3 separate regions of the Homo sapiens genome follow, and regions 1 and 3 are each linked to region 2. The links come from fine-mapping of genetic effects on gene expression. A gene starts in region 2. Each other region holds a variant in brackets. All regions are shown on one strand. Distances are from middle to middle.

The links. PIP is the estimated chance that this variant, and not a neighbour inherited with it, causes the effect.
Region 1: its variant is fine-mapped to the expression of HEXA in whole blood (TOPMed, PIP 0.92).
Region 3: its variant is fine-mapped to the expression of HEXA in lung (TOPMed, PIP 0.94).

The regions. Positions count from the first base shown.
Region 1 is chr15:72,338,252-72,341,099 of GRCh38, reverse strand. HEXA (hexosaminidase subunit alpha) reads left to right here. Exons shown (of 14, transcript NM_000520.6): 14 at 1-176. Among named protein-coding and RNA genes, the nearest start is that of CELF6, 20 kb to the right of the region's middle. The variant A/G (reference allele first, on the strand shown) is at 1,511.
Region 2 is chr15:72,374,435-72,377,282 of GRCh38, reverse strand. It overlaps HEXA (hexosaminidase subunit alpha), which reads left to right and starts at 1,269. Exons shown (of 14, transcript NM_000520.6): 1 at 1,269-1,563. The coding sequence starts at 1,311. It overlaps HEXA-AS1 (HEXA antisense RNA 1), which reads right to left and starts at 1,170. Exons shown (of 1, transcript NR_027262.1): 1 at 1-1,170. RefSeq lists enhancers at 510-559, 890-1,029, 921-1,477, 1,478-2,033.
Region 3 is chr15:72,350,771-72,353,317 of GRCh38, reverse strand. HEXA (hexosaminidase subunit alpha) reads left to right here. Exons shown (of 14, transcript NM_000520.6): 5 at 140-250; 6 at 2,084-2,185. Among named protein-coding and RNA genes, the nearest start is that of HEXA, 24 kb to the left of the region's middle. The variant C/T (reference allele first, on the strand shown) is at 998.

The DNA.
Region 1 (2,848 bases), 36 kb after region 2:
TTGTATAGTTTCTGTCAATATCTTTTGTAAGCTTAATCAATACAGGGCATGACAAGTATGTGTCACATACTTTTTTTTCCACGAAGAAAAAAAATAAGTAGGAATTGGGTGCTTTGTTTATCAAAATTTGTATTTCCTTTATAAATAAACTTTGAAATAAAGGTTGAAAATTAGTATCTTTTCTAGCCGAGCCACCATTGTTTTTAAAAATCCTCTTTGAAGCAGGTGTGTGTGTGTGTGTGTGTGTGTGTGTGTGTGACGTTTTTCAACAAAATTTTTAAAAATCGAAATGTCAGGGTCAGGTGCAGTGGCTCATGCCTCTAATTCCAGCACTTTGGGAGGCCGATGTGGGAGGATTGCCTGAGCTCAGGAGTTAAAGACCACCCTGGGCAACATGGTGAGACCTGATTTCTACTAAAAATTAAAAAGATTAGCTAAGAATGGTGGTGTGTGGTTGTAGTCCCAGCTACTCAGGAGGCTGAGAAAGAAGGATCACTTCAGCCTGGAAGATTGAGGCTGCAATGAGTCATGATCACACCACTGAACTCCAGCCTCAGCAACAGGGTGAGACCATGTTTCAAAAAAAAGAAAAAAATTTAAATGTCCAGGAACCTTGCTTTTTTCACAGTAATTACTGTACTCTAACCACACCCATGTTTAGTCTAAACTATCCCAGTAAATACTCCTATTTTTTAGTGATTTCAAATGTTTCAAACAACAGAAAAGTCTAGAAAATAGTAAACAGTGTAACCACCCAGCTTTGTTGCATCTCAGTAGTCATATTTGCTTCAGATTTGTTTTTTTTAAACAAAAAAGATGAAACATTATTAATATCCCCCTTCCCAATGCTATTCCCTTCTCCAAAAACAACTGTTTTCCAGAATTTCTTTTTAATCTTATTTCCTCTGGAGAATCTGATACTTAGCTGTGATTTTTTTCATCACTTAATAAATTCTTTATGGCTCACTCTTTATAGCAAATTAGAAAGAGATGTTTTGGAAGCCACTCAAAAAAGGGAGTGTGTGTGGGAAAGGAGGAAGAGCAGCTGGCAGGCAGACACAGATGGGAAGGGGTGCCATGCTCGCTGGTGTGCTGCAGAGTGTGTGAGTGAGAGCGTGTGTCTGAGTGTCTGGATGATCTATTATGAAAGAGGATATTTGAACATAGGAACTCAACTGCTGGTGTTTATCTAGACTCACATGAGTCAGAAATCTGAATGAAGATAGATGTGGAGATCCAGCTAGGAGAACAAAAGTGCTTCGTCATTTTTATGTGCTTGCTGTGTCAGGCACTTTTGTTGTTTTTTTTTTTTTTTTCTTTTCTTTTTGAGATGGAGTTTTGCTCTTGTCACCCAGGCTGGAATACAGTGGTGCAATCTGGGCTCACTGCAACCTCCACCTCCCGAGTTCAAGCAATTCTCCTGCCTCAGCCTCCCAAGTAGCTGGGACTACAGGCATGTGCCACCACACCCTGCTAATTTTTGTATTTTTAGTAGAGACGGGGTTTTACC[A/G]TGTTGGCCAGGCTGGTCTCAAACTCCTGACCTCAGGTGATCTGCCCACCTTGGCCTCCCAAAGTGCTGGGATTACAGGCTGAGCCACCAAGCCCGACCTGTCAGGCACTATTATAAGCACTTTACTGGATGTTAATGTATTTAATCCTCATCCCAACCAATGTGCTATCAATATTATCCTCATTTGACAGATAAGGAAACAAACATAGGAAGGTTAAGTGACATCTATATGGTTACACAGCTACGCTGAGTCCCGATTAGCACTGGGGAGTTGCAGGGCATATGACTCCTAACTCAGCTACCTAACTCTAGCCCCTACTGCCTTCAGCCACTGTCCTGGGCTGCCCCACGTCAGACATCTTCCTCCTCTCGGACACCAAATACAGACATACAGATAAAGCTAGCAACTCAGCTATTTCTGGGCTCGAATCCATTTCTTCTCCTATGTTTAAACAAATAAAATTAAAACCTCTCAGTCCACTTTTATTAGTCAAGCTGCCTGAAACAGTTGCAAGTTTGTCTATTTCACCACTTTGCATTCAGCCCTCATGACCCCACAGTTGGGCTGTAATCCTCATAAGGGCCGCTTCCACTAAGGCCAACAATAACCTACATGTTGCCAAATCAAGGGACATTGCTCAATAATAAGGAAAAAAATTACTTGATCTTTTCGCATATTTTTGAGATTTTGATCCCTCCCTCTTTGAAATTCTTTCTTCGCAGGCTTTTGTGACACCATTCTTTCCTGAGTTTCTCAATGTCTATCACTGACTCCTTCAGTAAACTCTCAGCCCATAACCAAGGTTTTGTCTTCTTTTTTTTTTTCTTCTTTGAGACAGAGTCTCGCTCTCTTGCTCTATTGCCCAGGCCCTAGTGCAGTGGTGCAATCTCAGCTCACTTCAACCTCCGTCTCCCAGTCTCAGGCGATTCTCCTGCCTCAGCCTCCTGGGTAGCTGGAACTACAGGTGTGCACCACCACACTCGGCTAATTTTTTCGCATTTTTGTAGAGACAGGATTTCGCCATGTTGGCCAGGCTGGTCTTGAGCTCCTGAACTCAGGTGATCCACACACCTCAGCCTCCCAAAGTGCTGGGATTACAAGCATGAGCCACAGCACCTTACCTTTCCTCTTATACTTTCTTCCTAGTGATCTCATTTAGACAGTCTTAGTGTGCAGTCTTACACCTGGACAGCCATAGATAGATAGGTAGGTAGGTAGGTAGATAGACAGATAGATTAGACAGATAGATAGATAGATAGATAGATAGATAGATAGATAGATAGATGATAGACTGACCGACAAACATATATATAATATATGTATGTGTATTTCCTCTG
Region 2 (2,848 bases):
CAGCCTCCTGAATAGCTGGGAGTAGCTGGGACTACAGGGATGTGTTATCATGCCCAGTGAAAGCCCTTTATTTTTAAAAGTTCATTTTCCTGATCTTTACATGTATTTTAATACTAAAATTAAATTTAAAAATTTTAAAAAGTACCTACTAACCAAATAATGCCACCCAATAACAATAGCATTATTTGTATTATGTTCTGGTAATATAGTGGTGAACAAGGAAGACAGGGTCTCTGATAACTGTGGAATTCTCCTTGATCACTTCTCAAGCCTCTCTTCCGGATACTATTTCTTGGATCTACAGCTGTCTTCCTTCCCCACTTCTGTAGTTCAGTCTCTCATTATTCTCTACCTCCAATAAAAAGGGGCCTCCTAACTGGTTTCTTATGCAACTACTCAACATGGTATTTCTAAAATGCAGATCTTTCGGGATGATTTTCAATTGCTCAGAGAATAAATTCCTTGACTTTCTACGTAAGGCCCTGCAGGACCAGGCCCCTGTCATTATCTCTGAGCACTCTCCATCTTGCACCCAAAGCCCCAGCAATATCTTACTGCTTTCAGTAAATACACACCGGGCTATGTGGGGTTTTGTCTGGGGAAAGGGGATGTGAGTTGTAACTAAGAGATTTATAGTCAATCTTGAAGGGAAGAGCTCATATTGGAGGCAATGGAATGCCTCAAGCTGGCTCTGAAAGTACACATTTTTTCCAGTCATAAGTAGATCACATTTGTGTGATCTTGTGATCCTCTCTCTAGCAGAGCCGTGCAGACTACCTACTTCCGGCCCTTTCTTGCCCCACGAAATTTCACATCACAACGACTTGTGGTTTTAATCCTCCGTTTTTCTGCTTCTGAAGTTACTTCAGCCTGGCAAGTCCTTTACCTCCCCGTAGGCCTGGCGAGCTGCATCACAACATTCAAGATTCACCCTAGAGCCATCTGGGAAACTTTCTTCTCCAGGTCGCCCTGCGTCCTCGCCTCCCCACCCCGTTCTTCTCGAGTCGGGTGAGCTGTCTAGTTCCATCACGGCCGGCACGGCCGCAGGGGTGGCCGGTTATTTACTGCTCTACTGGGCCCGTGAACAGTCTGGCGAGCCGAGCAGTTGCCGACGCCCGGCACAATCCGCTGCACGTAGCAGGAGCCTCAGGTCCAGGCCGGAAGTGAAAGGGCAGGGTGTGGGTCCTCCTGGGGTCGCAGGCGCAGAGCCGCCTCTGGTCACGTGATTCGCCGATAAGTCACGGGGGCGCCGCTCACCTGACCAGGGTCTCACGTGGCCAGCCCCCTCCGAGAGGGGAGACCAGCGGGCCATGACAAGCTCCAGGCTTTGGTTTTCGCTGCTGCTGGCGGCAGCGTTCGCAGGACGGGCGACGGCCCTCTGGCCCTGGCCTCAGAACTTCCAAACCTCCGACCAGCGCTACGTCCTTTACCCGAACAACTTTCAATTCCAGTACGATGTCAGCTCGGCCGCGCAGCCCGGCTGCTCAGTCCTCGACGAGGCCTTCCAGCGCTATCGTGACCTGCTTTTCGGTTCCGGGTCTTGGCCCCGTCCTTACCTCACAGGTGAGTCGGACTTGTCCCGCCCTGTTCCTGGGCCCTGAGAGTGCCTGCCTGGGGACAGTTCCCCCAGGGCTCCAGAGACGCCCTATGGGCTTTTGTCCAGCCCTCTGATCACAGGCACTCCACTTCCTCCTCGAGCTGCATTAGGTTTTCATCCAAAGATAACTACTATAGGACTACGGTTCAATCAGGAGATTAATTTATGGAAAATACTGTGCCAGCAGAAATCTAAGGTGATCCTTCTGACCGTGTTCAAGCTAGCCAGGGTCCTAGTGAGACTGTGAGCAAGGGCTGAGTAGAGACCAGAGAAAACACTCAAAATTGGGGAGACATAATACAAGAACTATGCAAAGTTACATACAAGTTTCTGGCACATAGAATGTTTGGCGGGCGGATCACGAGGTCAGGAGTTCGAGACCAGCCCGGCCAACATAGTGAAACCCCGTCTCTACCAAAAACACAAAAAATTAGCCAGGCGTGGCGGCGCGCGCCTGTAGTCCCAGCTACTCGGGATGCTGAGGCAGGAGAATCGGTTGAACCCATGAGGTGGAGGTTGTGGTGAGCTGAGATCGCGCCACTGCACTCCAGCCTGGGCAACAGAGCAAGACTCCCTCTCAGAAAAACAACCCCCCCCCCCAAACAAAACAAAACAAAACAAAAAAAGTGTAAATTGTGAAAGAAATCATAGAACATAAGGAAGTGAGTTTCCAGCGGCCACTTGGAATGGGATGGTAGATGTAATTAGCCGGGACTGAAAAGAGGGTATTCCAGGCAGGAAGAAGGGCTTGAGCAGAGGCACAAAGAATTATGATTGAGTTCAAAGTTCAGGTCTAGTGGATGTGATGAGTGGGGGCTGGGGATTGAGGAGGGATGAGGGTGGGGAAAATGTGGGGTTGAAGAGTCAAGAGCGCTTTAGACATTGGTTTCACATAAAATGGAAGGGGCTAACAGTTTTCTTTTAGGCAGCTATGTAATCAGTACTGAAAATTGTATTTGAGGATAATTATTCCACAGCACATTTGTAAGTCGAGCCAACAATGTAAAGGAATACAATTCTGCTGCATGGGTTCAAAATTTAGAAGTTTCTTGATAATCTGGAATCTAGCTCTTTGGTTATATTGTATAGATGTTATGGGGGTGGGAGCCACATTTACGGTTAAGTCTTGTAGTAATATTTTATATGATGTTTCAAGTGTGTTTAAATTACTTTCACAAAAGTTATCATTTGATATATAGAATTAAAAGCATTTAATTATACAGATGACCCTTAGAGAGTGACATTTGATTT
Region 3 (2,547 bases), 24 kb after region 2:
GAGCATTTAGGGAGAGAGCGACCCTGAGAACAGTCACAGATTGGCTTTTTAAGAATCCTGGGAGAGTTGTCTTCATCTCCCTGTGCCCCCATAGTAAGCTTCCTTTGAAACTGACATGTTCAATGTTTGTTCTGCACAGTTCTTTATCAACAAGACTGAGATTGAGGACTTTCCCCGCTTTCCTCACCGGGGCTTGCTGTTGGATACATCTCGCCATTACCTGCCACTCTCTAGCATCCTGGACACTCTGGTAACCAGGCCTTAAGGCCTTCTTCACACTTAAGAGTTCTAGGGTGATGGAGCAACGGACAGACCAAGTTCCAAATTCTTAAAGAGTTAGAGAGGGAATGTATGGACTGGGTGTGGTGGCTCATGCCTGTAATCCCAACACTTTGGGAGGCCGAGGTGGGCGGATCACCTGAAGTCAGAAGTTCAAGGCCAGCCTGGCCAACATGGTGAAACTCTGTCTCTACTAAAAATACAAAAATTAGCTGGGCATGGTGGTGCATGCTTGTAATCCCAGCTACCTGGGAGGCTGAGGCAGGAGAATCGCATGAACCCAGGAGGCAGAGGTTGCAGTGGGTGGAGATCACGCCACTGCACTCCAGCCTGGGTGAAAGAGTGAGACGCTGTCTCAAAAAAAAAAAAAAAAATTGTATGTAATTCTATGAGCTCCTGGGAAAAATGTAGAAGATGAGCTGCTCCAAGACTCAAAAAATAACAGAGTGACTTAAATCTACCTTACAGGCTACTGTAGATCAATGTTCAGGCTGTTTCCAGGGATACAAATGTTTAGGGGAATTGGCTTCATTGGCAGAGCTAACTATATTTGTTTTTGAGACAGCGTCTCAATTTTTTTTTTTTTTTTTTGTATTTTTTGTAGAGCTGGGGTTTCGTCATGTTACCCAGGCTGGTCTTGAACTCCTGGGCTCAAGCAATCTGCCCACCTTGGCCTGCCAGAGTGGTAGAATTACAGGCATGAGTCACTACACCTGGC[C/T]GGCAGAGCTAACTTTAGTTAGAACAAGGTCATAGGAGAGAGACGTTCAAAGCCTTAACTTGGGGCCAGGTGCAGTGGCTCACACCTGTAATCCTAGCACTCTGGGAGGCCAAGGCGGGTGGATTGCCCGAGCTCAGGAGTTTGAGACTAACCTGGCCAAGACGGTGAAACCCCATCTCTACTGAAAATACAAAAAATTAGCCAGGCGCGATGGCGCAAACCTGTAGTCCCAGCTACTCAGGAGTCTGTGATGGGAGAATCACCTGAGCCTGGGGAGATCAAGGATGCATGAACTGTGATTGCACCACTGCACTCCAGCCTGGACAACAGAGACCCTGTCTCAAAAATAAATAAATAAATAAATAAGTGAAGGAAGGAAGGAGGCTGAGGCATGAGAAGCACTTGAACCTGGGAGGTGGAGGTTGCAGTGAGCTGAGATTGTGCCACTGCACTCCAGCCTGGGTGACACAGCAAGACTCTGTCTCAAAAAAAAAAAAAAAAAAAAAAAAAGCCTTTCCTGGGGAAGTTCCTAACTCTCTTGAGTTTAATGTGCAGTCTTATCTGACAGTTCCCAATCCAGTTCCTGTGTCTGCCTTTTCCTTTGCTCCTGTGACGGAACCAAAGGAGGCCACACATCTGCCAGCCTTTGCTTCTGAGATTATGAGTTAAGAGGCTACTAAGTTCCCAGGAGGTCTCACAGTTGGGCTTAACATCAGTCAGACAACCGAACACAAATGGCAAGAGGAAGTATTGATCTTCAGGCTTTTGGAAGATTCCAGGCTACCACAGTAGCTGCAGCCCTCCTCTTAATGTGGCCAGAATTTATTTCAAGAAGAGGAAAGACCACTTCTATCATCCATCTTTGGATGTGTTCTGGGAAAAGTAGAAGTGTGCTGGGCCTTCCCTCCATGCCATCCCTCCCTGATGGGAAGGTTTGATAGACCCCATAAATACTTAATTGAGAGCTGAGGCAGGTCAAGCCTGTAGGGGTGTGTGGAGCGGCCTGAGAGCTCGCCCAACATCGCAAGTTTGAGGCTGAAACCGGAGAGACTGTGATGGGTTCACAGTGTGCACTTTAACCTACAGGATGTCATGGCGTACAATAAATTGAACGTGTTCCACTGGCATCTGGTAGATGATCCTTCCTTCCCATATGAGAGCTTCACTTTTCCAGAGCTCATGAGAAAGGTATGTTCCCGTTTCACTCAGACCAAGTTTATGGGTCAATGTCTGAATCTGGCTGTGGCCCTGCTGGCAAGAACAGGGTCTCTCATCCTAACCAGCCAGTTTTAGACCAATATAGGGGAAGGACACTGGATTTGGAGTCAGGAGACTTGAGTTCAAGTCCAAAACTTTGCCGATAATTTGCCTTGTGACCTTCAGGAGAGAATCTCTTCTGGCCTTATTCCCTTTTTATGTATTTATATTCTGTTAAATGGACATAGTATTAATACCTACCATGATTATCTCACTGGCATTATGATACTCAGATAAAACAGATGTGATAACTTCTGGGAAATTATGATCAAGTTTTTTGAAGATAGTCCCTG